3 separate regions of the Homo sapiens genome follow, and regions 1 and 2 are each reported to be linked to region 3. Evidence: microRNA targets listed by miRTarBase, many of them from high-throughput screens and not tested one by one. Region 3 holds a microRNA gene; each other region holds the end of a gene's coding sequence.
The links. The annotated mature microRNA hsa-miR-3925-5p reads AAGAGAACUGAAAGUGGAGCCU and lies in region 3 at 7,940-7,961, opposite strand. An mRNA with a match to its seed (bases 2 to 7 or 8) in the 3' UTR can be bound and repressed. Matches are read on the target gene's strand: a 7mer-m8 pairs with bases 2 to 8, a 7mer-A1 pairs with bases 2 to 7 and ends in A, and an 8mer does both.

Region 1 (10,971 bases), not on the chromosome of region 3:
CCCTGATTGAAGAGAGAGGTAATGTTCCTGGTAAAACTTTTGATGTAGAAACGAACCCTGTTCCTTCAAGAAAAATAGCCTATAAAAATAGCCTCTGTGACTCATGTGAAAAGTGTTTAACGTCTGTTTCAGAATATATTAGTAGTGATGGAAGCTATGCAAGAATGAAAGCTGATGAATGTAGTGGATGTGGGAAATCACTCCTCCATATTAAGCTTGAGAAAACTCATCCAGGAGATCAAGCTTATGAATTTAATCAAAATGGGGAACCTTATACTCTAAATGAAGAAAGTCTTTATCAGAAAATTCGTATTTTGGAGAAACCTTTTGAATATATTGAATGCCAGAAAGCCTTCCAAAAGGACACTGTTTTTGTTAATCACATGGAAGAAAAGCCCTATAAGTGGAATGGATCTGAAATAGCCTTTCTCCAGATGTCGGACCTCACTGTACATCAGACATCTCATATGGAAATGAAGCCCTATGAATGCAGTGAATGTGGGAAATCCTTCTGTAAAAAGTCAAAATTTATTATACATCAGAGGACTCACACAGGAGAGAAACCTTACGAATGTAATCAGTGTGGGAAATCCTTCTGCCAGAAGGGAACCCTTACTGTGCATCAGAGAACACACACAGGGGAGAAGCCCTATGAATGTAATGAATGTGGGAAGAACTTTTACCAGAAGTTACACCTCATTCAGCATCAGAGAACTCACTCAGGAGAGAAGCCCTATGAATGTAGTTATTGTGGAAAATCCTTTTGCCAGAAGACACACCTCACACAACATCAGAGAACACATTCAGGAGAGAGACCTTATGTTTGTCATGACTGTGGGAAAACCTTCTCGCAGAAGTCAGCACTTAATGACCATCAGAAAATTCACACAGGTGTGAAACTCTACAAGTGTAGTGAATGTGGGAAATGCTTCTGCCGCAAGTCTACTCTCACGACCCACCTGAGGACCCACACAGGAGAGAAACCGTATGAATGTAATGAGTGTGGAAAATTCTTCTCTCGGTTGTCATATCTCACTGTACATTATAGAACTCATTCAGGAGAGAAACCCTATGAATGTAATGAATGTGGAAAAACCTTCTACCTGAATTCAGCCCTCATGAGACATCAGAGAGTGCACACAGGAGAGAAACCTTACGAATGTAATGAATGTGGAAAGTTATTCTCCCAGTTGTCATACCTCACTATCCATCATAGAACTCATTCAGGAGTAAAACCCTATGAATGTAGTGAATGTGGGAAAACCTTCTACCAGAACTCAGCCCTTTGTAGACATCGGAGAATACACAAAGGAGAGAAGCCCTATGAATGCTATATATGTGGAAAATTCTTCTCTCAGATGTCATACCTCACTATACATCATAGAATTCATTCAGGAGAGAAGCCCTATGAATGTAGTGAATGTGGGAAAACCTTCTGCCAGAATTCAGCCCTTAATCGACATCAGAGAACACACACAGGAGAGAAAGCCTACGAATGTTATGAATGTGGGAAGTGCTTCTCTCAGATGTCCTATCTCACTATACATCATCGAATTCATTCAGGAGAGAAACCCTTTGAATGTAATGAGTGTGGAAAAGCCTTCTCTCGGATGTCATACCTCACTGTACATTATAGAACTCATTCAGGAGAGAAACCCTATGAGTGTACTGAATGTGGAAAAAAATTCTACCACAAATCAGCATTCAACAGCCATCAGAGAATTCATAGGAGAGGCAATATGAATGTAATAGATGTGGGAAGGCTTCTCTGAAGTCAGACCTCATTTTATATCAGAGAACCCTTTCAGTATAGTGAATCAGAAACTCCTGCCTGAAGTCAAACACCTTGTACATCAGAGAGTTCACACAGGTTAGTGTGGACATCCCCTTGTGTGTTGGACTCATAATCTGAAGACTCACAGAATGGAAACCATGATTATAACAAGACCACATGGTATAACAATACTAGACTATAGACAAGTAAAAATTTATAAATATTAAGAATGTATATACATGTCACCATGGATTGGAACTGTTTTGCATATCAGGGAAATCATAGCCAAGGGGAAATCTATCAGTATAAGGAATGTGGAAGACATAATCCTTTGGAAACTGTTAATACTAAAAGATATGTTTCTGATACAATAGCAAACTTGAAAAAAAAAAAAGAAATAGAAGATTCCTGCTGTGAATAAACATACTTCTTGTGTAAATAGAAACTGTAAAGTCATCAGGATAGCTAGTTAAGTCGGTAACCTTAAACTCATGTAAGCAGTTCCCAAAGAACATAGGACTTATGTTTGGGGAGAGGGTTGTTTTTATTACAGTACATTACAGGAATTGTATGTTCACTTCGAATCATGTTTGAAAAAACGTTGTATCCTTATTTTGTAATTCATATAGTAAGAGTATTCTAAACAGCACTACATTAATATCATTTGATAGGTATAAAGTATACTTTTTCTTGCACTCTTCTCTAGGATTTAATGCATTGATCATTCTTAATGAACAATATCAGCTCTAAAGGACCAATGCTTTTATAATGTTTTCAACTGTATCTGAGTCAGCCAGAGAGATAAATATCCATGTATAAAATAGATAGAAAACTTTGCTTGGTAATTTAAAATTAATAATGCCAGTTTTCCAAGAGTGAGAAAATCATTGCACTCTATACAGTTTTAAGATATACTTAAAATATTCCCATTTGTATCTATTTTTTTTTCTACTGTTTTTTATTTGGACACTTACATAACAGTGCAGAGCACAATGCTGTGTAACATAGGAATTCACTGTGTTTTCATTTGATGTCGTACTGGTTTTAAACCTTGTGCTCTACTCCTTCCTGTTAATGAATTAAGAACACATTCTAACAAGGGTCTGTGGCAGACATTGCCGAGTGACTTTCTAACATAGGAATTCACTGTGTTTTCATTTGATGTCGTACTGGTTTTAAACCTTGTGCTCTACTCCTTCCTGTTAATGAATTAAGAACACATTCTAACAAGGGTCTGTGGCAGACATTGCCGAGTGACTTTCTTAGTCACTCCCTTACTCTGCTGGCGGAGTTTGGTTATCCATTTATCCTCAAAAGGAAGTGAGATAAATCCTGATTAGTTTTAACCAGTGACACTCCCCTTCTCGTTGCCAGCAGTTGATTTACAGTGGTCACAGGGCCCAATTCTAGACATAAAACAAAGGATATACCTGACAGACTACTTCTGGAAAAGGTTTTCTCAAAGGCCCAAGGATTCAAGCAAAGGGAAGTGGAATCTTGTGGTGAACAGTACCTTGTCTGGATGTGGTGCCTGGTAACCATCTTTCAGCAATGGATTATAGTTTAATCATGGCCTGAGCAGAAATACTGAAAGACCCTGAGACCTGGATGATGTCTTTGAGCCACCAAACCAAGCAGCCTTGTAGCCACTCCTCCTTTGGACTGTTTCTTTTGTGAGAGACTAAACTTATTTTTAAGCCAGTTGATTTAGGATGCTCTATTACTAATAACTGAAGACATTCTAATTGGTACAGACTGAAACCTTTATAGGAGTTATGCAGTTCAGAAGTGGACTTTAGGTAAGTCATTTATTTTAAGCTGTTGATATAGAGATTTATTTTCTGTAAATTTTGACGTAAATAGTTTGAGCATTAGAAATCAACTTGAAACAATAAAATGTATGCTTCCTTGAACTGTCATATCGTTGACCTGCAAAATTCACCTTTGGAACGTGACACAATGTTAGGCATACCTCCTTTTTTCTAATACATGGAATACATTTTGTTGGAGGTAATTTATGTGATTCATATACCACTGCTACAGTGTTAGCTGACAACATATAGTATGAGGTAAGGATCTAATTCTGTTTCCTCTCACATGATTACTTGATAGCTAAGCATCTGATTGGTTTACTGCTTTACCACTGAGCTGAAATGCCGTGTTTTCCATTTATTAAAATCACACATGGCTCCTGTTTTTGTCACTCAGCACTTTTTCTCCATATTCTTCAAGACGATTGTGAGTATGGTACGTAACAGGAATTACATCTGGTAAGTTGTATAGTTTTGTGTAGGAACTCTATATTCATAGCATATTTGTGGAAATGATACCTATGGAGGTTTCTCACACTGGTGTGTCATTATACATTAATTGTACAATATGCATTTTCAGTAAAATATTTGAAAACTGTAAATGGCTTGGCATTTTCTTCTTATCCTATGGATTGCCTGCACATCAAAGGGTCTGGTACGTATATAAGTGGTCCTGAACTGCCTCTTCAGTAATGTAGTCAGTGTTCATAGTAACATGTTTATAGTTTAAAAGATGCCAATGTTTTCATAAATTAAGAGATTTTTTTGGCCCATCTTAAAATGAAGCCCACCAGGAAATACATTCTTAAAATTATATTGCTTTTTTCTTCCTATCACAGAGATAACTACATCAAAAATAAATTGATTTTCCCTTCATTGAATATAAAGTCTATGATTCCTGCCAAATTGATGCACTAGCATGGGCTGCTGGCTTGTTACAGTGCAAGCCCGGAGGTGCCACGGAAATAAGAGCAGTGTTTGGGTCCAGAGAACTAAGGATGTGAATGGGGCTCTTTTGCGGGAAAGGTAATGGCAGACAGAACAAATCTTAAAGAGTAGTTGAATTGTAATCTTTTTCCCTATACATTTATGGTCCTCTGTAGTATGCCCAGGAGATGATAGCCCACCATGGTGCCTTCATAAGATAGGAGAGCAGCTCGGTCCTATGGGAGCACTTAGGTTCCATTAGAGCATCCTCTCCTCACTTCAAAAGCCAGTCATTGCTACGACTGGAGACATTCATTTTTTTGTTTGTTCGTTTTGTTTTTTGTTTGTTTTTGAGACGGACAGAGCCTTGCTCTGTCACCAGACTGGAGTGCAGTGGCACGATCTCGGCTCACTGCAAACTCTGCCTTCCGGGTTCAAGCGATTCTCCTGCCTCAGCCTCCCAAGTAGCTGGGACTACAGGTGCCAGCCACCACTCCCAGCTAATTTTTTGTATTTTTAGTAGAGATGGGGTTTCACCATGTTGGCCCGGATGGCCTCGATCTCCTGACCTTGTGATCTGCCTGCCTCGGCCTCCCAAAGTGCTGGGATCACAGGCATGAGCGACCACACCCAGTCGACTGGAGACATCTTAAGGAGGCAGTATTTAGGGTGATCATGTCAAGTGGTATCCTGAGGGTCAGTCAAGCGGGGCGGGGGGGGGTCTCATTCCAGGCATTGGTGATAGGGGATTTTTTTCTGTAACACACTCCTCCACTTAAACCCACCCAACAGGAAGAAACAGGAGGATTAGGCCTTCTCCCTGCTATTCATTCTCAGCCAAGATTTACAGTATCCAAGTAAACATTCAGGAAAGTAGTCAGACACATGAGGAATTGGTACTAAGAGACAGTACACAATACCATTTACATGAGAAGGCCTAACTTAATGAAATATGGGCATCCAGACAGATTTCAAAATGTTCTTAATACATATCTTTTTTTTTTTTTGAGATGGAGTCTCACTGTGTCGCCCAGGCTGGAATGCAGTGGTGCGATCTCAGCTCACTACAGCCTCCACCTCCCAGGTTCCAGCGATTCTCCTGCCCCAGCCTCCTGAGTAGGATTACAGGCACGTGCCGCCATGCCTGGCTAATTTTTGTATTTTCAGTAGAGACGGGGTTTCACCATATTGGCCAGGCTGGTCTTGAACTCCTGACCTCAAGTGATCCCCCCCATCTCGGCCTCCCAGTGTGCTGTAATTACAGGCTTGAGCCACTGCGCCCCGCCTTAATACGTATCTTTGAAGAAAAATATAAAGATGAATGGGGTGTGTGTAAAAATATAGTTACCAAAAGAAAAGTGGATTGTTGAGCATGCATAATCGACATGAAGGAAATAATAGATGAGATTGATAGATGCGATACACCCAAAGAACGAGTTAGCAGGCTCTGTTGTAAAGGCAAATATTTCCTCCAGGACACCAGAAGAAATGAAGAAATGGAAAGTGAAAAATCAAAAACTGAGATGTAGAGGATAGTAGAAATAACCATATACTACAATTCCCAAAAGAAAAAGAGACAACACACGAGGAAAATACACGAATTAAAATTTTCTTGTAATTAAAAAAGAACGAAAGGCCTCAAATTGGAAGAGATTGATGTGGTGCCAAATGGAAAAATAAAGAAAATCCTGGGCTGGGCGTGGTGGCTCACACCTGTAATTCCAGCACTTTGGGAGGCCGAGGCGGGTGGGTCACGAGGTCAGGAGATCAAGACCATCCTGGCCAACACGGTGAAACCCCGTCTCTAGTAAAAATACAAAAAATTAGCCAGGCATGGTGGCAGGCGCCTGTAGTCCCAGCTACTCGGGAGGCTGAGGCAGGAGAATGGCGTGAACCCGGGAGGCGGAGCTGGCAGTGAGCTGAGATCGTGCCACTGCACTCCAGCCTGGGCAACAGAGTGAGACTCTGTCTCAAAAAAAAAAAAAAAAAAAGAAAATCTTGTTCCATCCTTTTTTTCATTCATAACCTAAATGATTTTATCAAATGTTCTACCTGCAAAACCAGCACTTCTAATTGCTGCACTGTTGTTATGATGAAATTCCTTGTATATATATCCTTATGTGAATGAACTTCCCTGGAACATATAAACTGATGGTATACATTGCATAAGGCACAGACATTAATTTTTTTTTTTTTTTTTTTTTTTTTTTTTTTTTTTTTTTTGAGGCAGAGTCTCGCTCTGTCACCAGGCTGGAGTGCCGTCGTGCTATCTGGGCTCACTGCAAGCTCCGCCTCCCGGGTTCAAGTGATTCCTCTGCCTCAGCCTCCTGAGTAGCTGGGACTACAGGCACACACCACCACACCCAGCTAATTTTTTGTATTTTAGTAGAGACGGGGTTTCACCATGTTGGCCAGGATGGTCTCAATCGGACCTTGTGATCTGCCCGTCTCGGCCTCCCAAAGTACTGGAATTACAGGCATGAGCCACTGTGCCAGACCAATATTAATTTTAAAAGATACTGCCTGGTCACTTCCCTAGAATGGGTGTCATTTTATAGCACGAAACCTTTTCAATTACCATTCACATCTTCACCAATATTTACTATATGTCTCTGTAATTTTTGCTGTTCTGAAGGATGTGAATGGGGTATTTTGTTGTTTCAACTTGCATTTTGTAACCACTAATTTCAGGTATAGGTTATATCCTTTTTTTTTTTTTTTTTTTTTTTTTTAGTATACTACCCTTTTATTATTTGCTGAATATCCTCATATATTCTACTTGTTGGTTTTACTTTAGATTGAGCAAATTTTTCTTTTTTTCTTTTTCTTCTTTTCTGAGACAGAGTCTCACTCTGTCACCGAGGCTAGAGTGCAGTGGCACGATCTCAGCTCACTACAAGCTCACCTCCCAGGTTCATACCATTCTCCTGCCTCAGCCTCCCGAGTAGCTGGGACTACAGGCGCCCGCCACCATGCCCGCCTAATTTTTTGTATTTTTAGTAGAGATGGGGTTTCACTGTGTTAGCCAGGATGGTCTCAATCTCCTGACCTCGTGACCCACCCGCCTCGGCCTTCCAAAGTGCTGAGATTACAGGCGTGAGCCACCACGCCTGGCTGCAAATTTGTCTTTATAGACTGGAATTTCTTCGTAACAAGATTTATGAGACATCCTAGGTGAACATCCTTAACAGAGGTTAGTAAAATGTGAAACAAGCAGTAGAAGGCTGTGAGCAGTTAGAAGTAAAATGCTAGACTGGCATGTAGCACATTTGATAAAATCTCTTAGATATGAATGGGAAAACTGATTCAACAATATTTAATATAGCTAAACAAAATGTCAAAATTTCTCATACCTACACACACATCTATTATATAGGTTCACAACACTACTTAACGTCATAAATTTCATGTAACACCTATGGGGGAGGGAATGGGGTGGGGTCTGGTATGAAGAGGAAAGAAAATCAGGTAAAATAAGAGGGGGTCTGTCTTAATCCATCTCCTGTTGCTGTAACTGAATATCTAAAACTGGGTAATTTATAAAGGAAAGACATTGATTTAACAGTTCTGGAGACTGGCAAGTCCAAGGTCTAGGGGCTGCGTCTGTTAGCAGCCTTCATGCTGGCGGCGACTCTGCAGAGTGCTGAGGTGCAGAGGGCATCACATTGTGAGGAGGCTCATGAGAGAGCCAACCTGGCTTTTTATAGTGATAACTAACTCACTCCTCTGATAACCCATTAATCCATTAACCCATTAACACATTAACTTTTTCATAGGGCAGAGCCCTCATGACCCAATCACCTCTTAAAAATGCTACCTTTAGTTCTGTAGGGGACAACCATTCAAATCATAGCCAGGTCCTTGCAGAAGCCAACGTTGATCACACCTGTAATCCCAGCACTTTGGGAGGCCGAGCTGGGTGAACCACTTGAGGTCAGGAGGTCAAGACTAGCCTGGCCAACATGGTGAAATCCCGTCTCTGCTAAAAATACAAAAATTAGCCAGGCATGATGGCACACGTCACCTATAGTCCCCACTACTCAGGAGCGTGAGGCAGGAGAATCGCATTGCTTGAACCCAGAGGCAGGGGTTACAGTGAACCAAGATTGCGCCACTGCACTCTAGACTGAGTGACAGAGACTCCATCTTTAAAAAAAAAAAAAGTAACCAATGTTGATAATAAATAGTCTGTTCAGTTTTAGCCACATTTTCATGGCTCAGGTGCCTAAGTGATGTCTGTGCCTTTTTTAGCAGCTTTGCCCTGTGCCAGCTTTCATGGAAATGGTTGGGCTGCTCAAACTGTTGGACACATCCTTGCTTTGTTGAACGAATACTCCATCTATGAGTATCTGCATCGCATGACAGAACTCTGCAACAGACTGCTAATTGCACTACAGTGTTCCCCCTCTTTGTAGGATTCCCTCTTCCTCAAGTCTCAGCTGGGTACCTAATGAGATTTCTTTATTTTTTTAGAGGCAGACTTACTCTGTTTCCCAGGTTGGAGCACAGTGGTGTAATCATAGTCCACTGCAACCTCCAATTACTGGGCTCAAGTGATCCTCCCCCCTTCACCCTTCCAGATAGCTGGGACTTCAGGTGTGTGCCACCATGCCCAGCTTTTTTTTTTTTTTTTTTTTTTTTTTTTTTTTGTAGAGAAAGAGTCTCACTGTGTTGTTCAGGCTGTAACTGGAGAGTTCATTTCTCCACTTTCCTGTTAGCTAGCTGTGGCCAGGTGACTAGGTTTTGGCCCTCAGGACGTGAGTAGACAGCTGGACAAATGGACAGGTAAGATGGGAAAGCAAAGCCTTAGGATGCAACAGAGTTGCCTAGATGCCTGTCAGGACCAGAGCAGAGGAAAGATGACAGAGACAACTGTCCAGGCAGATGAGACCTGCCAGCCATTTGCACAAATGGGGCCTTCATGACACATTGTCACCAGTGGGGCAGAATTGTTGCATCACTTGCCACAGGTGAGGTGGCCAAAAAGCCAGTGTGCCTTCTCCATCCTCTCTCCCTTTCTGCTAATGAGCAGATTGACCTTGGAAACCTGAAGGAGAACTGAGAAGCCATTTATAGAAAAACTGAAGTCCCTGGAAGCCACTCTCTGAACAAGAGTGCTGATTTTGGACTTGGTGTGATTGAAAACTGAAGTTCTATTGTGTGAGCTGTTACGTTTGCATTTGTTAAGAGGAAATACCACTGAAACAATGGAGAAGGCATCCAGCAAATGCCTCCAACAAAAAATTCCTCCTACCCTACCTGGAAGCTGCAAGTCCCTGGGTAAAGCCGGCAGGTAAACAGTCAACCTCTAGGGCATTCAAATTAGGTGCCACCTTCCCCAAAGAAAGTTAGAAAGGAGACAATTGGAAGGAAGATGAGGCAGGCCTGGGGCCCCAGGAATGCTCAGTGGGCCATGGTGATGTCCCTGGGGTCGGGGAGAGCAGCTGGAGTGACCCCCCAGTCTCTGGTCATCAAGAGATTGTTCAAGCCAGCTGGATTGAGTGGCCCCCCTCAGTGGGCAGTTCACTGAGGTTAAATTTAAATGCAGATTTAGTCATAATCCCTACAGGCTTTGGAAATAAGAGCCTGGTGAGTCTATTCTAAAGGTCATCTCTGAGAATGAATTGTAGGAAAAGCCAAAAAGCTTGAAAAACAGGATTGTTCTTTGATGTATGGAAAAGATTACAAAGCAAGAGGAATTGGAACATGATCTTCTTTAGCATAAAGTATTCATAGTTCAATAAAATAGAATAAAACTCAGAATTGGAGTATAGTCACACACCACATAACATTTTGATCAGTGATGGACCAGATATACAACAGTGGTCTCATAAGATTCTAATACCGCATGTTACTGTGCCTTTTCTGTTTAGATACACAAATGCAACTGTGTTACAGTTGCCTAGCGTATTCAGTACAGTCACATGCTGTTGAGGTTTGTAGCCTGGGAGCGATAGGCCATACCATACAGCCCAGATGGTAGTCTTTACCACGTAGGTTTGTGTAAGCACGCTGTGTGACATTCACACAATGAAGCATTTCTCAGAATATATCTCTGTTGTTAAGCAAAGCATAACGGGACTCACAAGCTATGCCAAGCAGGACTAAAACTGTAAATTAGACAAAAACCAATAAAACCAAGCTGCTGACAACTCCCAGGCGAAACCAAACCAAAAAACGGCTCTACAATGACCTCCCATTACAACCTCCCAACAACTGTCATTAACCTCTCAGATTGAATGTCCTTCCCTGGTAAAATCAAGATGGGCCAAAAGGATGGTGGAATGAATGAATGGTCACCCAGAGAACTTCCAGCTCTCCAGGTTTTCAGCTTCTCTTTCTACAAAGATGTGAGAAAGAGTGCTGAGCACACAAAAAGCAAAGACACTACTAACAGTGACCTACCCTATGATAAAAGTAGTATTTCGGCCAGGCATGGTGGCTCACGCCTGTAATCCC
Region 2 (10,971 bases), not on the chromosome of region 3:
GTGTGGTAAGCTGACCTACTTCCCCTTGGGACCAGACATGTATGGCTGAAAGGTCACACAAATATCTTTAAACTACTGTCTACTGTTTGATGCTATCTATTAGCTTCTGAAGAGGTGCCAGGTAGGTTAATGACCAAGACTGGAAGGAGATAGAAAACATTCTTACACTCTGTTTCACCTAGATAACTAGAACTCAAGCTAGATAAATGGATAGATGGATGAATGGATGGATGGATGAACTGATGGATGGGAAAAACGGGAGAAATGAAATAACTCAAATAATGGTTGATTCAGATCTCATGGCTGAATGCAATACTACGAAATCAGATGCATGTCTCAAACATTAGACGTTTTCATGATGAAAACATGTGTCATACTCTAGTAGTATCCCATGAAATAAATAGGAGGAATGAAACCTGGTTTCTCTATATTTAAGTAGCAACAATTGTAAGCCAATTATCATGCCAGGCTTATCACTGAGCAAAGGGGAAATAAGAAAGAAATGATAGAATCTTGGACTGGGTAGAAATATTAGCAATCATTTAATGAAGCAGCCGTATCATACAGATGAGGGAAGGGATTCAGAGAAGAGGCCAGAATTTCCAGAGGTGACAGCTGGGCTTCAACTCATGTTTCCTAAGCTGCAATGCAATCCTCTTCCCATTATATTGAACTGCCTCAAAGAAGTTATTGAAAGACTTCTTTCTGTGGGTTTATTTCTTCCCTTTTCTCCATTAGGAAGTCAACACCTTGCGCTGCCAGCTTGGAGACCGCCTCAACGTGGAGGTGGACGCTGCTCCCGCTGTGGACCTGAACCAGGTCCTGAACGAGACCAGGAATCAGTATGAGGCCCTGGTGGAAACCAACCGCAGGGAAGTGGAGCAATGGTTCGCCACGCAGGTGGGCATCTAAGCACGTGGCCACTCAGGACCCGAGGCCCCCCAGGGCCCCGGAGGCAGGGTCTGATCCTTTCTCCCCTTGGGTGTTTCAGACCGAGGAGCTGAACAAGCAGGTGGTATCCAGCTCGGAGCAGCTGCAGTCCTACCAGGCGGAGATCATCGAGCTGAGACGCACAGTCAATGCCCTGGAGATCGAGCTGCAGGCCCAGCACAACCTGGTGTGTATTGTTCAGACCTGCTGGTGAGCGATGGGAACTTGGGAGGCAGAGTCTTGGGGATGCCCTTGGGGCCACACACTCTTCTTAGCTCTTGGAGCTTGTGAGTTTTTTCGAACCCCATGGAGGAACCCTATAAGGAGCAGCTCTCTGACATTCCTGATCTTTCCCACCACAGCGATACTCTCTGGAAAACACGCTGACAGAGAGCGAGGCCCGCTACAGCTCCCAGCTGTCCCAGGTGCAGAGCCTGATCACCAACGTGGAGTCCCAGCTGGCGGAGATCCGCAGTGACCTGGAGCGGCAGAACCAGGAGTATCAGGTGCTGCTGGACGTGCGGGCGCGGCTGGAGTGTGAGATCAACACATACCGGAGCCTGCTGGAGAGCGAGGACTGCAAGTGAGTACCTGGCGGACGGCACCCCTGCAAGGGACAGGCACTGTTCTACTGTAGGATAAAACAGAGACTTTGAAAATCAAGTTTCAGATGCCAATCTGTCTGTAGAGGCGAGAGTTTTATATTACAGCCGTGGGAAGTGTAGGATATTTGTTGCTAACATTATCTGGGCTAAAGATACTTTCTTTTACAAAAGATAGTCATGGGACTTGACTCCTTCCTCCAGTAGAGATTTTTTGGATGTTGATGGCCAAATAAATCTTTCTGTCTTCAGGACTGTCTTGTCACCACAAAAAGGAAAATGAAACTGTAACAATGATCACTTTTTCTGATTTAAACAGAACTTTCAAATCCACCGTTTCATTAATTCTTGTTAGAATCATCTGAGGCAGGCAGAGTGGGAATCATTATCACCTTCTTATAGATGAGCATTTGAGTGTCAATAGGGTTGATGATCAATAACTAACAGTACAGCAGTTGCCAGCGAACATAATATTTTTATGAACACAGTCTTGTGGAATTTTCATAATCCTGTGTGGTTGGTACTACCAGTCCTACCTTACAGGTGGGAAAGCTGAGGCTTAGAAGGAGGAAGTGACTTTCTTGTGTGTCTAGGGTCATACAAGGAAGGCTGGGATTCCACCTTACATGTTCTTTGCTCATTTCTGCCACTGTATCAGAACTCTGTAGAAGGAGTGATCCAAACAAGGCATGGCTTCCTAGGACATCAGAGAACGGGTTCTGCTTGTTTCTGTGTCTCTTTGGATTGAGTCTCCCTTGTTTGAATCACCCTTCTCATGCTGACAGTCTAATGCTTCTGCATCCCAGGCTGCCCTCCAACCCCTGCGCCACCACCAATGCATGTGAAAAGCCCATTGGATCCTGTGTCACCAATCCTTGTGGTCCTCGTTCCCGCTGTGGGCCTTGCAACACCTTTGGGTACTAGATACCCTGGGGCCAGCAGAAGTATAGCATGAAGACAGAACTACCATCGGTGGGCCAGTTCTGCCTCTCTGACAACCATCAGCCACCGGACCCCACCCCGAGGCATCACCACAAATCATGGTCTGGAAGGAGAACAAATGCCCAGCGTTTGGGTCTGACTCTGAGCCTAGGGCTACTTGATCCTCCTCACCCCAGGTCCCTCTCCTGTAGTCAGTCTGAGTTCTGATGGTCAGAGGTTGGAGCTGTGACAGTGGCATACGAGGTGTTTTGTTCTCTCTGCTGCTTCTACCTTTATTGCAGTTCCCCAAATCGCCTAATAAACTTTCCTCTTGCAAAGCAGACATGATTCTCATTTGTATTCATTCTTTTCAAAGTGTTGACTCTCTGTGTGCTTCTTATAAAGCCACTTGAAAGCAGAAGGAGGACTTTATAGGTTAATCATCTCCTAAAAGGTCTTCATCACCTTCATTAACATTCATTAAGCACAGTGAGTCCCAGCATCCACTTAGGCCAGCATAAAACAAGTAGGATCACTAGGACAAGAGGCCTCGTCTGAATATGATAAACATATTTCTCATGGGACCTTACTCAGTAAAATGCAACGGTGAGCATCTCTAGACAGTTCCACTCATTCTTTTAAGTCCCTAGCAGGGATGACAGAAGTTAATATTTATTGAACACCTACCAAATGCCAGGAATTGTGCTACTAATTTTTTCTCTTCCTCACAGTGAGGAAGAATCAATGGCAGGACTGAACCCAGAGTTCACTCTCTGCTTGTCAGTTACACATGAGGTGTGATTATGAGAGGACAAAATTGATTTCAAACAAGCACCCAGAGCTTATACATCCTCCTGGGGAGACACAATGCTGTTAGTGCTCAAAACATCTCTGAAACTCTCCTTTGTGAAATACTGAATAACTCAATACTAAAAAGCACCACCTTGCCATCTTCCATATTTGAGCAATACCCAACCTATTTTGAAAGTGTTTCTTTTCTCACTTGAATTGTTTAACCATGGGAACTACATATGAATTTCGGGACCCTCCCCCTCAAAGTTATTTAGAATCAAATTAGGATATTACAAGTCAGGTGTTTGCAAATGCTAACAGTGACCACGGTACTGGTGCCTGGCCCCTACTGGTGCCTGCTGATGTCTAACCAAGGTTAATGGCTCCCATCACTGTGCATGCTGTGGTTTGTGCCAAGGCCACTCCCTCAGTCTGCAGATTATTCCCAGATTAACCAATCTGCTAATTATGTCTTCTCTCCTTGAGATGAAGCTGATACTATCTCCCCTGCTGTGATGATGCCGGTTCCATCATCACATGTCAGTCTTAAATTCTTAAATTTTTTTTTTTTTTTTTTTTGGAGACAGAGTCTCACTCTGTCACCCCAGCTGGAGTGCAGCGGCATGATCACGGCTCACTGCAGCCTTGAACTTCCCAGGCTCAGGCTATCCTCCCACTTTAGCCTCTTGAGTACATGGGACTACAGGCATGCACCACCATGCATGGCCAATTTTTGTATTATTTGTAGAGAGGGGTTTCGCTGGGTTATCCATGCTGGTCTTGAACTCCTGGGCTGAAGTGATCTGCCTACTTCAGCCTCCCAAATTGCTGGGATTACAAGTGTGAGCCACTGCACCTGGCCAGTCTTAAATTCTTGTGCTCTCATATTCTAGTTCACTTAATATCTACTCCTTTGTTGTTGATGCTGCTGCAGCTTAGACAGGAGACCTTGGAAGACCGTCTGAGTGATACTCCATCCTCTGCTCAGAATGTCTTAGACCCAGTTTGTGGACTCTATTCTCTCTTTCCTCAGGGAGAGTTCATTCCCTGGAGCTACCTGCATGCCTCATGAAAACCGCCCTTGTTCAATTTATCCCGGCAGTTCTCCACACATGCTGGGATTACTGTCCACTGATAGTTACCTCTCAGCTACCTTCACCAGGAACAGTGCCTCCCAAATACCCAGTTGCATGCTTTGTGAGTGAGAGGTCAAAGTTCTCAACACAGTAAATACACTTTGTTTTTAGTGTTCAATTTATAAAATATTAAGCAAAACTTGTTTCTATGTTTGATGTTGTGTCAGCGGAAAACATGGGTCTAGGGAAAACAGTCCTTAGTTCTTATCTCTGCCATGGTGCTCTCCTTGGAGGATAAAAGAAAGGAGTGTCAGGGAGATCACTTTTTCTCAGGACAAAGCCAAATTGCTCTTCTGAAGTATCTGGGAAGGGTCAGTGTTACCACTGAGAAATAAAACTAAAATCCTAAGTCCCCCAGCTGACTGAACGGACTCTGTCTTGGCCAAGGGGACCGAAGAGAAACCTTAAAAACAGAGTCACATGTATGTTTATTGCAGCAATGTTCACAATAGCAAAGGCCTGGAATCAACCCAAATGCCCAATAATGATAGACTGGATAAAGAAAATGTGGCACATATATACCATGGAATACTATGCAGCCATAAAAAAGGTTGTGTTCATGTCCTTTGCAGGGACAAGGATGAAGCTGGAAACCATCATTCTCAGCAAACTAACACAGGAACAGAAAACCAAACACCGCATGTTCTCACTCATAAGTGGGAGTTGAACAATGAGAACACGTGGACACAGGGAGGGGATCATCACACACTGGGGCCTTTTGGGGGGTGGGGGGCTAGGGGAGGGATAGCATTAGGAGAAATACCTAATATAGATGATGGGCTGATGGGTGGAGCAAACCACCATGGCACATGTACACCTATGTAAAAAACCTGCACGTTCTGCACATATATTCCAGAACTTAAAGTATAATAAGAAAAAGAAAAAAGAAGGAAAGAAAGAAAAAAACAGAGTCCCTGACCATGACAGGATGGGAGGTCAGACATGCCTCAGTATGCCCCCTCCTTATTAACTTTTAACCAGAATTCTTTCCTAAGGAGTAAGCAGAAACCAGCTCTGGAAAATAAGAAACAGATGAATCATTCCTTTATCACCTTTAGCCCATCATCTGAAGCTGTGACTGGATTCCTTCCTCCCGCCTTTTGCAGTTTCAACACAGCAACCAACTGGCTGGCATTCCTTCCTGATAAGAGACCACCAACCATGGAGTGGTCTGGCCAGTCTACAGAGGATGTGCGGTGAGGGTTTTCACATCCTCTGCCTCACCTTTCAACATCAGAGGGCCAAAAACTCCATCCTTGGATCATGCTAATGCCACCATTTGTGAACATGCGACCCATGAAGAGGCATGAAGCTCAATTGCACATGCTTACATTTGTCTTTTCATAAATATTCATGACTCCTCCTGTAGCTTATTAAATAGTGCATTTGGCCACCTCACTCAGCATACATTCCTTTCTCACATTTCCCTCCCTCAAAATGCTTACTCTTGGCTTCTGCCAGAGGCTACGCTTCCCAGCTTGCAGGATGGTCAGCCTGGAGGCTGCAGCCTTTTATGAGAAATAAAGCTCTCCTTTCCAACTTTATTAATCTTGTGATTTTTCAGTTGGCACTACTTAGCTTACTGACTTGGCAAGATACGCTGGCTGTAAAATTCACCATGACATGATGACCTGCAATTGGCCATCTAGTGTGACAAGGCAATGTTGCCAATGAAATGTGGGTATAATCTAGCTTGTCTCACTTCATAATTTTAAAGTTTCTAGTGAAATTAAATATTTAAAAAATCTTTTTATTGGTCATTCATGTGTCTTCTCTATAAATCAATTCAATCCAATGTATAATCATTGAATGCTTACGATGGTGCCTGTTGGGCAGAGCACTGAACAAAACAAAGACCTGCTCTAAGAAGCCTACTTTCAAGTGGAAGAAGACAGACAATAAAAAGAGGCAAACAAGCATGACTGTGTCAAGCAATAAGTGCTGAGAGGAAATATAAAGCAAGGAAAGGGAATAGGAAGTGGAAACTTTTGGATAAGGTGGTGAGGGCACTCTATGTCTGATGAGGAGAAATAGGGTTTAATCTATTTACATGTAATTTTATTACTGACTTTTTGGACTTATTTTAAAAATCTTACTTTGTCCTTTCCATTAAGGATGATTTTTTTTTGTTGCTTATTGTTTCCTCAGTTCCTGACACCTGTGGATTGATCTTGTTTTCTTTGTTCCCCCTTTTAATATGTGTTCTTAATTTTTAAATGTGCACACTTGACTTAGCACTATCTAATTTAATCTCTTTCTTCTTGCATAAAAACAAGATCCATAGAAGATGTTTTTGTTTTTTGTTTTTAAGAGACAGGATCTAACTCTGTTACCCAGGCTGGAGTGCAGTGGTGTAATCATAGCCGATACAGTTTGGATGTTGTCCTTGCCCAAGTCTCATGTTGAATTGTAATTCCAAATGTTGGAGGTGGGGCCTGGTGGGAGGTGATTGAATCATGGGGGCAGTTTCTCATGAATGGTTTAATACCATCCCCCTTGGTACTGTTGTCACAACGGTGAGTGAGTTCTCACAAGATCTGGTTGTTTAAAGGTGTGTAGAACCTCCCCCACTCCCTTGCTTCTTCTCCCACCATGTGAGACACCTCGCTGCACCTTTGCCTTCCACCATGATTGGAAGCTACCTGAGGCTTCCCTAGAAGCAGAAGCCTCTATGCTTCCTATACAGCCTGCAGAACTGTGAGGTAATTAAACTTCTTTTCTTTGTAAATTACCTAGTCTCAGGTATTTCTTTATAGCTGTGTGAGAATGGATTAATACAATGGCCCACTGCAGCCTTAACCTCCCAGATCCTGAGGATCCTAACCTCAAGTGACCCTCCTGCCTCAGTCTCCGAAGTAGCTGGGACCACACATGCATGCCACCATGTCTGGCTAATTTTTTACTTTTTATTTTTGTAGAGACAAGGTCTCTCTATGTTGCTTAGGCTGGTCTTAAAATCCTGGGCTCAAGGGATTCTCTGTGTTGGCCTCCCAAAGTGTAGGGATTACAGGTGTGAGCCACTGTGCCCTGTCAGAAATTTTTGTTTATGTTCTTTACTTTACTTTTTTATCTTGGTTTATTTTATTATTTATTTATTTATTGACAGGATCTTGATCTGTTGCCCAGGCTGGAGTGCAGTGGCATGATCATAGCTCACTGCAGCTTCACCTTCCTTGTCTCAACCTATCTGCCTGTCACAGCCTCCTGAGTAATGGGACTACAGGCATATGCCACCATGTGTAGCTAATTAATTTTTTTTTTTGTAGAGACGAGGGTCTTTCTATGATGCCCAGGCTGGTCGTGAACTCCTGGGCTCAAGCGATTCTTTCACCTTGGCCTCTGAAAGTGCTAGGATTGTAGATGTGAGTCGCCATGTTCAATCTTACCTTATTTTTATGCTCCAAAATTTGGTCATTATTATTATTATTTAGAATTATCTACATGGTTACCAGTTTATTTGTTTGCAGTGTTTCTTGGACTTTATTCGTCCTTTCTGGTTTTAACTTTTTATTTTCTGAAATACATTCTTTGGTAGTTTTTATAGCATTTGCTATGGTTTGAATGACACCTCCAACCATTCACTACTACTTAAACCATTCACTACTACTTAATGGTCAAGTAGTGATTAGGCCATGAGAACCCTGCCTTCATCAATGGATTAATGTCATTTTATCATGGGAGGGGGGTAGTTATCATGAGAGTGGACTTGTTATAAAATGAGTTTGGCCTCCTTTTGCTCTCTGGCTGTCATGCTCTCTTGCATTTACACCTTCTACCATGGGACAATGCAGCATGAAGGCCCCCATCAGATACCAGCATCTTGATAGTGGCCTTCCCAGTCTCTAGAACTGGAGAAATAAATTTATTTTCTTTATAAATTATCCAGTGTGTGGAATTCTGCTGTAGCAACACACAGCAGACTAAGAATCTATAAGTGACAACTTCTCTGTTATTTTCTGAAAATGTCTTTTCTTAGTGGTCACTCTTACATGATGGTTTAGTTTGTATAAAATTCTAGGTTGGCAGCTATTTTCCTTCAGCGTGTTGGAAATATTATACCATTATCTTCTGGATTCTGTTGTTGATGCTGAAAAGCCTATTGCTAACCTGTATTTCCATTGTTGGTAATTCTTCTATTTTTTTCTCTCTTTGACTCTTTCTAAGATCATCTCTTTGTCTTTAGTGTTGTGCAGTTTCACTATGTTATTCTAGGGATGGCTTTGGTTTAGTTTTCCTACTTAGGACTTATGTGCTTCTTGATTGATTCATGTATTTCAATACCCGTGGAAAATTCTCAGCCATTACATTTTTTCAATATTACTTATATCTTATACTCCATTTTCTCCTTCTGAATTCCTTTTTTTAAAAAATAGCTTCACTGAAGTATAATGTATCATATATAATTCATATACTATAAAATTTACAGATCTAAAGTATAAAATCAAATGGTTTTTAGTATAATGAGAGTTATAACTACTACTACCATTTTAGAACATTTTATTACCTCTAATAGAAACCTTGTACCCATTAGTAGTCACTCTCTGTTCCCTGCAACCCTCCAGGCCCAGGAAATCATTGCTGTCTCTTTAGATTTGCCTGTTCTGGACATTTTATATAATGAAGTCATAGAATATGTGTTTTTTTGGCTAGCTTCATTTACATAGTATGTTTCAAGGTCCATCCATGTTGTAACATATAACAGGTATCATGGAGGAATAAGTGCATGATCCTAACCTAGGATCATGAAGATTTACTTCTACATTTTTTTCCTAAGTTTTCTAGTTTTAGCTGTTACATTTAGGCTGTGCTCCATTTTGAGTCATTTTTTTTGTCTGTGGTGTAAGAAAGGGGTCAAACATTTTATTCTTTTGCATGTGGATGTCTAGTTGTCCCAGCATTATTTACTGAAAAGATTATTTTTCCCCATTAATTATATTGGGACCTATGTTGAATATTAATGGACCATAAATGTGAGGGTTTATTTCTAGACTCTCAATTTTATTCTGTTGGTCTGTATGTCTATCTTTATGCCAATAGAATACTGTCTGTGTTACTGTAGCTTTGTAGTAAGTTTTGAAATCATGAAATGTTAATCCCCCTACTTTGTTCTTCTTTTTCAAGATCGTTTTGGCTATTCTGGTCTTATGCATTTCCACATGAATAAAAGGAACAACACGTCAAGTTCTATAAAACAGCTAGCTGGGATTTTGGTAGGTGTTGTTGAAAGTTTAGATCAACTTGGGTGATACTGCCATCTTAACTGTGGAGCCCAATGGAACATCTCTCCTGTAACACAGAGGTGTGCAGGAAAGAAGGACTGCACTCCTCAAGCCACCCTGCCTGAATCCTCCCTATGTAGAGGGAACTGGGGTTAGAAATGGGTGAGCTATGAAAAATGGGATCTGCTGATGTGTATTGGCTGCTGGGAGGATTGGGAACTGCCACTCAGCTGCCCAGCACATGGTGCTTCTGGAAGGCAGAGACATGAGAAATAATGGAGTCCCTCATTTAAACATCATAGCCCCCAGTGTTCTTATCAAGTTTCCATTTTTTGTGTGTGGTTGTTGAGTAAATGCTTCTCATTTGTTGTAAGCCCTTTAATCAATGCCTAGAGCCTTTGACTGATGTCTTTGTTAATTTTGAGTGGCTTAATAGATGTCTTTCTAGGGGAGAGACTTCCCCAAGCTCTTCATACCACCATTTCTGTGCTTCTTCAAACAGATTTTGGACCTTCACATTCTAGCTTGTCTGTCATCTCTTTCATATTTTCAATCTCTAAATATTTCTGTGTTATATTCTGGTAAATTTCCTTAGAGATCTTTTCCAGTTGACTTATTCTCTTTTCATCTTTGTCTAATTTAATGTTTAACCTATCAATCGAGTTTGAAAATTTGTTGTATTTTACTTTTGTAGAAAAGAAAGGCTCTTTTATTATTAATTTTTTTAGAATTGGCTTTAATAAATGCAATTCTAACAGAGATGACAATACTTTATTTGGCTTTGTAAGAAAGGGATATTTCAGCTATTAAAGCTAACAACAATTTGATACATAAAAAGTGATTGAATAAAGGGAATAATAAGGCAGAAATGCATATTTTATATCTTAACAGAAATGAATAAATGCAACATTCCATGTAAAAACTAACAAAATTACATCAATTCCCAGACAAAATCTATTAGGAGTCAACTTAATTTTATAAAAATGAATTTGTCATTTAATGAAAAAAGTAAAACAATTAAATTTATTGACTCCTAGAACTCTGTTAAAATATTTCTGTGAAGCTCTGTGGAACAATTATTAATAAAATTAAGCTGACAGAACAAATGCAACAATTAAACAATTGCTGTGACTTAATAGGAGAAGTATAAAATATCTAAAAATGTCCAATAGAATTATGAGAGCTAAAACTTTGTTTTTAATTAAAATTTCATTAGTTCAGTAGGAGATGAGTGAAAATTTAGCACCCTGAATAATATTATTGATATCAAAAGAAAATTTTGATTTTTTGAAGCCACAAAAGACCTAGTGATGAAATTTTACACTTAAAATTTGCACTTTAAATTATACTCTTCACTTTTAGAAGTTGTTT
Region 3 (10,524 bases):
TTCCCCAGCTTTTGAATTTTTATTTTTTTTTTAGATGGAATCTCCATCACCTGGGCTGGAGTGCAATGGCGCGATCTTGGCTCGCTGCAACCTCTGCCTCCTGGGTTCCAGTGATTCTCCAGCCTCAGCCTCCCGAGTAGCTGAGATTACAGGCACCTGCCACCAAGCCTAGCTAATTTTTTTTGTATTTTTAGTAGAGACGGGGTTTCACCATGTTGGCCAGGCTGATCTTGAACTCCTGACCTCAGGTGATTTCACCTGCCTCAGCTTCCCAAAGTGCTGGGATTACAGGCGTGAGCCACCGTGCCCAGCCAGGTTTCGAAAAATTTAAAGCACTTTTTATATTTTATACCTGTAATGGATTCAGTCCTGTGGGCATGGGCAATTCTTTGTGTGCCAGACATTTAATATCTCTGTCCTCTTCACCCTACAGCCAGTTAACCTCCCTGGCCAGTGTGACAGTCATTAAAAAAAAAAAAAATTGGCTGGGCGCACTGGCTCATGCCTGTAATCTCAGCACTTGGGCTGAGAGGCAGAGGTGGGAGGATTGCTTGAGCTCAGGAGTCAGTCTGGGCAACATAGCAAGACCTTGTCTCTACTAAAAATAAAAAATTAGCCGGGTGTGGTAGCACGTGCCTGTTGTCCCAGCTACTCTGGAGGCTGAGGTGAGAGGATCGCTTGAGTCTGAGAAATTGAGGTTGCAGTGAGCCGTGATTGCATCACTGCGCTCCAGCCTGGGGGACAGGAGTCTAAAAAAAAAAAAAAAGAAAAAAAAATGCCCAGCTACCCACTAGGAGGCAGTACTGCACCATCGAGAATGGGCCAGACTTTTTGCCTGAGGTTGCACATCTCTTCAGGGAATTGAGTCTGCACTGACTTTTCCACCATGACAATAATAACACATTAACAAAGATAATCATAACAGTAATTACTGATCCTTGAGCTTTATGTATCAGCATTTTGCTAAACATTTTACATATACATACTACCTACTCACTTAAACCTAACCACTTGAGGGAGGCTCTGTTACCCTATTTTGAAACCAAGGCTTAGATCCAAGACCCATGTTAAGTGCTTTGTGAGGAAGGGGTTTTACTGAAGTGCTGAAAGAATGGGATTTGGATAGGAAGTTGGATATATGAAGAGCCAAGTGCATAAAAACAAAGGCAGGAAACTAAAAGGTTCCATGTTGACAGGTTTAAAACCCTATGAATTTGTTCAGAGCTTTAGAATGGTAGGTAGACTAGTAGAATGTCAGAGCTACAGGGACCTTAGAGATTATCAGGGATGGTGATTTCCTTTTTCTTTTTCTTTTTTTTTTTTTTTTTTTGAGACTGAGTCTCACTTTATTTCCCAGGCTGAAGTAGAGTGATGTGATCTCGGCTCACTGCAACCTCCGCCTCCCGGGTTCAAGCAATTCTCGTGCCTCAGCCTCCTGAATAACTGGGATTATGGGCGCCTGCCACCACGCCTGGCTAATTTTTATTTTTTATTTATTTATTTTTTTTGAGACGGAGTCTTGCTCTGTCGCCCAGGTTGGAGTGCAGTGGCGCGATCTCAGCTCACTGCAAGCTCTGTCTCCCGGGTTCACGCCATTCTCCTGCTTCAGCCTCCTGAGTAGCTGGGACTACAGGCATCCGCCACCACGCCCGGCTAATTTTTTGTATTTTTAGTAGAGATGGGGTTTCACCGTGTTAGCCAGGATGGTCTCGATCTCCTTGACCTTATGATCTGCCTGCCTTGGCCTCCCAAAGTGCTGGAATTACAAGCGTGAGCCACTGCGCCCGGCCAATTTTTGCTTTTTTAGTACAGACAGGGTTTCACCATGTTGGCCAGGCTGGTCGGGAACTCCTGACCTCAGGTGATCTGCCTGTCTCGGCCTCCTAAAGTGTTGGGATTACAGGCGTGAGCCACCATGCCCAGCCAGGGATGGTGATTTTCAAACTTTAAACATAGTTAAAGTTTTTGGAATGAAATCTTATGTAGAATACAGAAAACAGCTAAAAATGGTATAGCTATAAAAAGTATAGGTTCTAATAATATTGGCTCATAAAGACAAGAGAAATCCAATTTCCTTCTGTTATTTTGGTTGAATAGAGAAGTGCAAATGGTAACATTTTTTAACACTTTATTTTGCAATCCCCGAGGTGACAGGATAGGAAGGTCCATCCCATAAACAACCTAGAAGCACAGACGTCAGAAGAACATCACCCCAACATGTTTATAGGCATTTGGTTGAATAGGTTTTATGTGGGGGAAAAAACAGAAAACTTAAAAATTGTTAGACCTGTATATATTTTCAACTCAACCAAGTGCCTGTGAGCCCTCTGCAGCCATAGTGGGAAAAGTCCTTATACTGCCCACACCTTCATGCTACAGATGAAGAGCCTGAGGCCCAGGGAGGAGGAGGGGGTGGCTGAGACTCAGGGAGCCTAGGGGGGCCATCTCCAGGGGCTCGGCCTCCTGCCACCCCATCCGGTGCCCTTTCTGAGTGACCAGTCATGACATCTGGTATGGCAGTGTGCTGGAGCCTGGCTGTTCAACCCCTCACCCTGAGAGGGCTCTGGCCACTTGCCCATCTCCCTGGCAGATAAAGCCTCAGACAGATGGCAAACAGTACTTGGCTCCAGGAATCAATTCAGGTCTGATTCACCAGTGGTTTGTGCCCGAGCCAGCGCCACAGGCTGTCTCCTTTCCCCTGTTCTATCACTCACTACCCTCACTGTGGCCAGGTTGGGACTCTTGAGCAACAGGCAGATACCTGTGATCTTGAGAATTGCACTGACTCTTTTGAGGGTTTTCCAGGCCACAGCAGGACTTGTCTGCCTCATTCCTCTGGGCAGCTCAGAGCATTACCCCATCAGCTGCAGTTTCAGTATCAGGGTGGGGCAGTGGTGTGGGGTGGGGCACCGTGTTACTAGGACTAGCCCTGTTGGCTGCAGACACATTGGCAACAGGTGGTGGCTCAGGGGCACAGAACAGGTGGACTACACATCTCCAGGATGAAGTGTCATTTATTGGCATTTGCCTTTTGAAAGAAGCAATCTACTTATAAATGGCAGGACCCTTTTTATTTTCTTTTTTGAGAAAAGCATTTTATTAAATCCATATTTGGAGATATGTTTTAGCAAAGTATAATTAGCATTTTTTGTTTAGAGGATGAATTGTGTTGCTACTCAATAGAAGGAGAATATGGCATACAAACAATGCTTTTATGCAGAAACATGTGTTTTTGTTTTTGAGACAGAGTCTTGCTCTGTTGCCCAGGCTGGAGTGCAGTGGCGCAATCTCGGCTCACCTCTGCCTCCTGGGTTCAAGTGATCCTCCTGCCTTAGTCTCTCAAGTAGCTGGGACTACAGGCATGTGCCACCACGCCCAATTTTTGTATTTTTAGTAGAGAGGGTTTTGACATGTTGCCCGGGCTGGTCTCGAACTCCTGACTTCAAGTGATCCACCCACCTTGGCCTCCCAAAGTGCTGAGATTACAGGCGTGAACCACCGCGCCCAGCAGCAGAAACATGTTTTAAAAGTACATTCAGGCTGGGCGTGGTGGCTCATGCCTGTAATCCCAGCACTTTGGGAGGCCAAGGTGGGCGGATCACGAGAGGTCAGGAGATCGAGACCATCTTGGCTAACATGGTGAAAACCTGCCTCTACTAAAAATACAAAAAATTAGCCGGGCGTGGTGGTGGGCGCCTGTAGTCCCAGTACTCGGGAGGCTGAGGCAGGATAATGGCGTGAACCCGGGAGGCGGAGCTTGCAGTTAACTAAGATCACGCCACTGCACTCCAGCCTGGGAGACAGACGGAGACTCTGTCTCAAAAAAAATAAAATAAAAAAGGACGTTCATACACTTAAGCTTTTCTGACTGGACACGATGCTGCTATTTAATAATAAACTTTTTTGATCTTAAAAGAATCCAGAGCAGGTCCCCCAGGAGCAGGTTCGTGGCGTATCACCAGTGGGGAAGGCTTTTCTCAGAGGCTCTGAGGCAGTGTCTCAAGAAAGGGGGGAGGCTCCGCTTTCTCAGAGTTGCAGTGCTCACCTTGCTGCTGCTGCCACACATCTGTATGCGCCTTCCTGGTACATCACCATCACCACAGGCTCTCATGATAGTGAGGGCTTGACTCCTTCGGGAACCTCAGTCTCCCCAGCTGGAAGTAGGAGCCATAATGCCTCCCTTTCAGGCTTGTTGGGACAAAGAGATGAGGTCACATAGGTGAAGCATCAGCAACTGTGCCTGGCACAGAGGAGGCCCTGAAAGTTGCCAAGCTCAGCGTTTTCCTTCACATCAGCTCTGCTCCACCCCCTTTAATTACTCACTTTTATAATAATTCAAAGGTAACCCATGACCATGGTAGAAAAATTAGCACATATAAGCAAAAAAAGGGAAAAAAGTGATTCAATAGCTTCTGGTTTTTCTAGCCTTTTTCTTTATTCTGGGTGCTTGGTATGGGAAGTTTCTTCATTTGTGTTTAGAGGGTTTTGTAGAGATGATATCATGGTCCCACTTTGCAAACGAGACAATTGAATTCCAGAAAGAGGAAGTGCCTTCCCCAAGGTCATGCAGATAAGGTTAAGCTGGGTTGAAACCCACAGCTTGAGTCCAAGCCCAGCACCAGAATATCAGGACCACAGAGGCATTGCACACAGGTGGGTCACAGATACCTGTCCCTGAAAAGCTCATGATACGGTATTTTCCTTGAAGGACTTAAACATTCCCCACTGAAAACATCCTGCTTTGTGACTTGCCCCATCCTGAAGTCCTGGGAGTGGACAGTTTGTGAATAAACCACCTGACTAGGTGAGGGCTGTCGGCTCCTGAGTTTTGCTCCCCCAGAGACACTGAGTATGCACCATCCGTGGGCTTGCCAGCATGAAAGTGCTATCATTGTGGGCTTTCCCTTCACATTTTTTTTTTTTTTTTTGAGACAAGGTCTTGCTCTGTCACCCAGGCTGGAGTGCAGTGGTGCGATCTTGGCTCACTGCAACCTCTGCCTCCTGAGTTCAAGTGATTCTCCTGCCTCAGCTTCCCAATAAGCTGAGATTACAGGTGCGTGCCACCATGCTCGGCTAATTTTTGTATTTTTATTAGAGACAGGGTTTGGCTATGTTGCTAAAGGCTGGTCTCGAACTCCTAGCCTCAAGTGATCTGCCCGCCTTGGCCTCCCAAAGTGCTGGGATTATAGGCATGAGCCCGGCCTCCCCTCACTTTAAAGGATGCTCCTTACCTGTTTTTGCTTTCTTCTGGTCTTTCCTGTGGCAACTGTTGTGGGGTTCCCAGCAAATATTTCAGTTTTTTCCTAAAAGAAGTAAGCGTGCACATTTCACTGGCTAAAGTACACTCTTGTGTTAAAATTCTGCATTGAAAATGGGTGAAGTCACCCTGGCAACATGGCAAAACTGCATTTTTACAAAAAATACAAAAATTAAGGCCAGGTGTGGTGGCTCACGTCTGTAATCCCAGCACTTTGGGAGGCCGAGGCAGGCAGATCACTTGAGGCCAGACATTCGAGACCAGCCTGGCCAACATGGCGAAACCCTGTCTCTGCTAAAAATACAAAAATTAGCCAGGCATGGCTGGGTGCGGTGGCTCATGCCTGTAATCCCAGCACTTTGGGAGGCTGAGGAGGACAGATCATGAGGTCAGGAGTTCAAGACCAGCCTGACCAATATGGTGAAACCCCGTCTCTACTAAAAATACAAAAATTAGCTGGGTGTGGTGGCACGCACCTGTCGTCCCAGCTACTTGGGAGGCTGAGGCAGGAGAATCGCTTGAACCCGGGAGGCAGAGGTTGCAGTGAGCCGAGATCACGCCAATGCGCTCCAGCCTGGGTGACAGAGCAAGACTCCATCTCAAAAAAAAAACCAAAAAAACAAAAAAGCTGCGTGGTGGTGCACGCTTGTAATCCCAGCCGCTTGGAAGGCTGAGGCACAAGAATCACTTGAGCCTGGAAGGTCAAGGCTGCAGTGAGCTGTGATGGCGCCACTGCACTCCAGCCTGAGTGAAGGGCAAGACCCTGTCTCAAACAAACAAACAAAAATCAAAGGATGAAGTCACGTAGATTTTGGGCAAATTGTTTTCCAAAATCTGTTAGCATAATTCTACAGAATGTCAAAAAGATAAAGACATCCACCAGTAAACCCTAATTGTTTGATGGTTGTAAGTAGTCACTTGAGATGTGACCGCAATAGGGGCCTGCCCATGGGGAAGGTGGCATACCCACCCATCTCCTGTGCCAACATGGCGTCCCTATCTCCTGGTAGCCCTGAGGCGAGGGTCAGGTGAAGGAAGTTGGGATCATCATTTACTCAGTTTGCCTATCTGTAGAAAGGGGGTATTTGGGCTGAAGGTGGCCTGTAACTCACAGGATGATCTGTCCCCTCTTCACACTGCACCCTGCAGTGAGGGGAGCAATGACTGAGTCAACCACTGCTTTAGGCAGCGGGGGTCCTTGATAAGGAGATAAGTTTGCCACACTGGGACTGATGGTCCTCAAGTTCTTTTCCAGCACCGATATTCTAAGATTCGGTGACTCCAGAAAAGCAATAAGGCCGTTGTGAGGAGGGCAGATCCAGAGGATGATCTTCCTGGAGGGGAGGGGAAAATGTTCAGTGCATACAGTGGGTAATGGTTCATCTGAGGTGGCATCAGACTGTACAACAAGCAGGGATTGTTCTGCAGGGTTCAGGCGACTGTTAGTATTTGATCAAGATTGGAATAGTCTCCTAAAACCTACTTGATCCTCACAGAAAAGTTCCTATCCCCATTGTGCAGATGTGGAAACTGAAGGTTAGAGATAGAAAGTTAGACCCTAGGGTGAGGCAATGGATGGCTAGGACTAGAACCCAAGGCAGGCTCCTAGGGCTCCTGCTTTTCCAGCACGCATCTACCATGCATATGTGCTACTACCAGGCCTGGCGCTAGGATTCACATCACTTTAGAGGCTGCTTGGTGAACATGGGCACCCACAAAAGCCCTGGAGAAGGCAGGTTCTTTCTCAGGAATGGCCAGTGGGTGTGAAGATCACAGTGTGGGAGAAAGATCAAGGAGGACTGAGGGCCACCCGACCAGGAATCATCTCCAGCAGCCTGTGGGTGACCGCTCGTCATCCAGATCAGCATCAGGAAGGTTCTGCACAACACCTCTAGGGAACACATGGGGATCGAGGTCCTGTGGCCGTCTTGGGGTCTGAAGATCTAGATTTAGCTTCTGGCAGTATCATGATGCAAACCTGGGCAAGTTGTTTTGTTCCCTGGACCTTGGTCTCTTCATCAGTGAAATGGAACTAATTATATTACCTCATAGGGCTATTATAAGGCCTAATAAAAAAAAAAAAGAAAGCATCCATAAACAATGTTTACTGAGCACTAGTAGTGCCAGGCACTCTTCACTTGTATTAACCCATTTGATCTTCACAAAAAATATTTTCTTTTTTGTTTGAGACGGAGTCTCCCTCTGTCGCCCAGGCTGGAGTGCAGTGGCGTGATTTTGGCTCACTGCAGCCTCCACCTCCCAGGTTCAAGTGATTCTCCTGCCTCCGCCTCCCGAGTAGCTGGGATTACAGGCGCCCGCCACCACACCCGGCTAATTTTTTGTATTTTTAGTAGAGACAGGGTCTCACCATGTTAGCTAGGATGGTCTCGATCTCCTGATTTCATGATCTGCCTGCCTCGGCCTCCCAAAGTGCTGGGATTACAGGCGTGAGCCACCGCACCTAGCCCACAACAAATTTTAGAGAGTAGGTACTATTGCTGTCCCCATTTTAGGAAACACAGAAGTTGGTTCCAGCCACAAGGAAGTGGCTTCATCCATCATCAAGAAGTTGATTCCAGCCCACGTGGATGGCTTTGAGGAGTTCAAGACTTTAGTGGAGGAAGTGATGAAAGATGTGGTGGAAATAGCAAGAGAACTAAAACTGGAGTCTGGAGATGTGACAGGCTCCACTTTCAGTTCTCTTGCTATTCCCACATGACCATGGTCCAGGATCCTGAGTTTATGTTCAGGAAATAAGACTCAGCGAAAACTTGCAGTCACTTTCATAATCATTAATGCAGAGATTCTCAATAAATTCTTAAGGCTCCACCACGCTCCAACATAAAGTAACACATTCAGTTTGTTACAGAAATGGTAATAAGGCAACACTATGCAATACTATGTGTACAATGCAGCACTTTGCAGTACCAAAATCCATGCCTACAAAGCACTGCACAAGAACACATACAAATAAAGGATATAGTAGAATGGCTGCCTGTGGGGTGGGGGCATGGAAATGACAATGGAGTGAGGGGGGAATACATGAAGCAAGAGGTGACTAGTCAGGACCAATGATGACAGCCAGCCATCACCTGGGGAATAGGAGGGACTCATCCCACTGCACCTGAGGACTAAAAATAAAATGGAATGGAAACAAGACCCTGGGTGAAATCACTCGGCCTGAAATACACTGGCCCTGGGCTCAAAGAGGAAAGGTGGGGACACATCCTGGGCTGCCTCATCAAACCAGGAGCCTGCAAGAGCATCCCTGTGTGTGTGTGGAGGGGGTGAGGACAAAGGGAGGGTCAACCACACCCAGTTCTGTGAGCTCAAACACCAGACTAAAGGCCACAGGCAGACCCTCCAAGGCCTCAGGGAAGGAGTGAAGAGAAAGGCCTGGGTGGTCAGTGTCAGAGGCGGCACAGTCACATGCTGTCATGCCTATTTCACCAAGGTTTAGCCAAATGCACTATTAGGGTGTCAAGAAAATATGGATATAGGGCAACAATCCTGTGATTGTATGATGACTGTAGGCTTGATCATCATAAGGGTCCTGCCATATGCTGGTCCAGTTGGCACACCCACCCATCTCCTGTGCCAGTGGAGTGTGCCTGTGAAACAGCAGTCAGCTCTTCTGGTGGCCCTGAGGATCGGGGTGAAGGAAGAGTGGATCTTCATTTAGTTAGTTTGCCCCTCTGCAGGAGGAGGGGAGTTGGATACAGACCTCTCCTAACAACCCGCCTGGCTACTGGAACCTTCCTGAGAAATGTGGTTAACCTCTGGGCGCAGAGCCAGCAGTTCTAGGCTCCCGTCACAAGGGGGCAGGATGGGGAAGAAAACAGGTTCTCAATTCCAGGCCTTGGACCTGTCAGGTTTGCTGGCAGGGGCAGGAAGGAGGGTGGGGTCGGGAGTGTGTGGTGGTTGATGAGGGATCCAACCATCGTTCCGCAAGAGCGGCTTGTTTATTAAACATGAAATGAGGGAAAAGCCTAGTAGCTCCATTGGATTGGGAAGAATGGCAAAGAGAGACAGGCGTCATTTTCTAGAAAGCAATCTTCACACCTGTTGGTCCTCACCCATTGAATGTCCTCACCCAATCTCCAACACAGAAATGAGTGACTGTGTGTGCACATGCGTGTGCATGTGTGAAAGTATGAGTGTGAATGTGTCTATATGGGAACATATATGTGATTGTATGTGTGTAACTATGTGTGACTGGCAGCGTGGGGAGTGCTGGTTGGAGTGTGGTGTGATGTGAGTATGCATGAGTGGCTGTGTGTATGACTGTGGCGGGAGGCGGAAGGGGAGAAGCAGCAGGCTCAGGTGTCGCCAGAGAGGCTGGGAGGAAACTATAAACCTGGGCAATTTCCTCCTCATCAGCGAGCCTTTCTTGGGCAATAGGGGCAGAGCTCAAAGTTCACAGAGATAGTGCCTGGGAGGCATGAGGCAAGGCGGAAGTACTGCGAGGAGGGGCAGAGGGTCTGACACTTGAGGGGTTCTAATGGGAAAGGAAAGACCCACACTGAATTCCACTTAGCCCCAGACCCTGGGCCCAGCGGTGCCGGCTTCCAACCATACCAACCATTTCCAAGTGTTGCCGGCAGAAGTTAACCTCTCTTAGCCTCAGTTTCCCCACCTGTAAAATGGCAGAAGTAACCAAGCTTACCTTCCCGGCAGTGTGTGAGGATGAAAAGAGCTATGTACGTGATGCACTTAGAAGAAGGTCTAGGGTGTGAGTGGTACTCGTCTGGTGGGTGTGGAGAAGACATTCTAGGCAATGAGGACTGGGGAGAGCCTGGCCCATGGCTTCCACTCAGCAAGGTCAGTCTCTTGTCCTCTGCACTCCCAGCCTTCCAGAGAGGACCTTCCCAACCAGCACTCCCCACGCTGCCAGTCACACATAGTTACACACATACAATCACATATATGTTCCCATATAGACACATTCACACTCATACCTTCACACATGCACACGCATGTGCACACACAGTCACTCATTTCTGTGTTGGAGATTGGGTGAGGACATTCAATGGGTGAGGACCAACAGGTGTGAAGATTGCTTTCTAGAAAATGACTCCTGTCTCTCTTTGCCATTCTTCCCAATCCGATGGAGCTACTAGGCTTTTCCCTCATTTCATGTTTAATAAACCTTCCCAATGGCGAAATGGGCTTTCTCAAGAAGTGGTGAGTGTCCCATCCCTGCGGTGGGGACAGGGGTGGCAGCGGACAAGCCTGCCTGGAGGGAACTGTCAGGCTGATTCCCAGTC

Region 1: miRTarBase lists ZNF12 as a target of hsa-miR-3925-5p. Seed matches in the 3' UTR shown: 7mer-A1 at 2,473-2,479.
Region 2: the mRNA of KRT33B is a reported target of hsa-miR-3925-5p. Seed matches in the 3' UTR shown: 7mer-m8 at 2,725-2,731.

Annotation. Positions count from the first base shown.
Region 1 is chr7:6,681,649-6,692,619 of GRCh38, reverse strand. ZNF12 (zinc finger protein 12) reads left to right here. Exons shown (of 5, transcript NM_016265.4): 5 at 1-4,187. The coding sequence ends at 1,772. Among named protein-coding and RNA genes, the nearest start is that of ZNF12, 20 kb to the left of the region's middle.
Region 2 is chr17:41,355,321-41,366,291 of GRCh38, reverse strand. It overlaps KRT33B (keratin 33B), which reads left to right. Exons shown (of 7, transcript NM_002279.5): 4 at 739-900; 5 at 992-1,117; 6 at 1,293-1,513; 7 at 2,339-2,794. The coding sequence ends at 2,456. Among named protein-coding and RNA genes, the nearest start is that of KRT33B, 9.0 kb to the left of the region's middle. RefSeq lists an enhancer at 1,184-1,685.
Region 3 is chr6:36,614,541-36,625,064 of GRCh38, forward strand. It overlaps MIR3925 (microRNA 3925), which reads right to left and starts at 7,972; the gene lies at 7,896-7,972. RefSeq lists an enhancer at 525-574.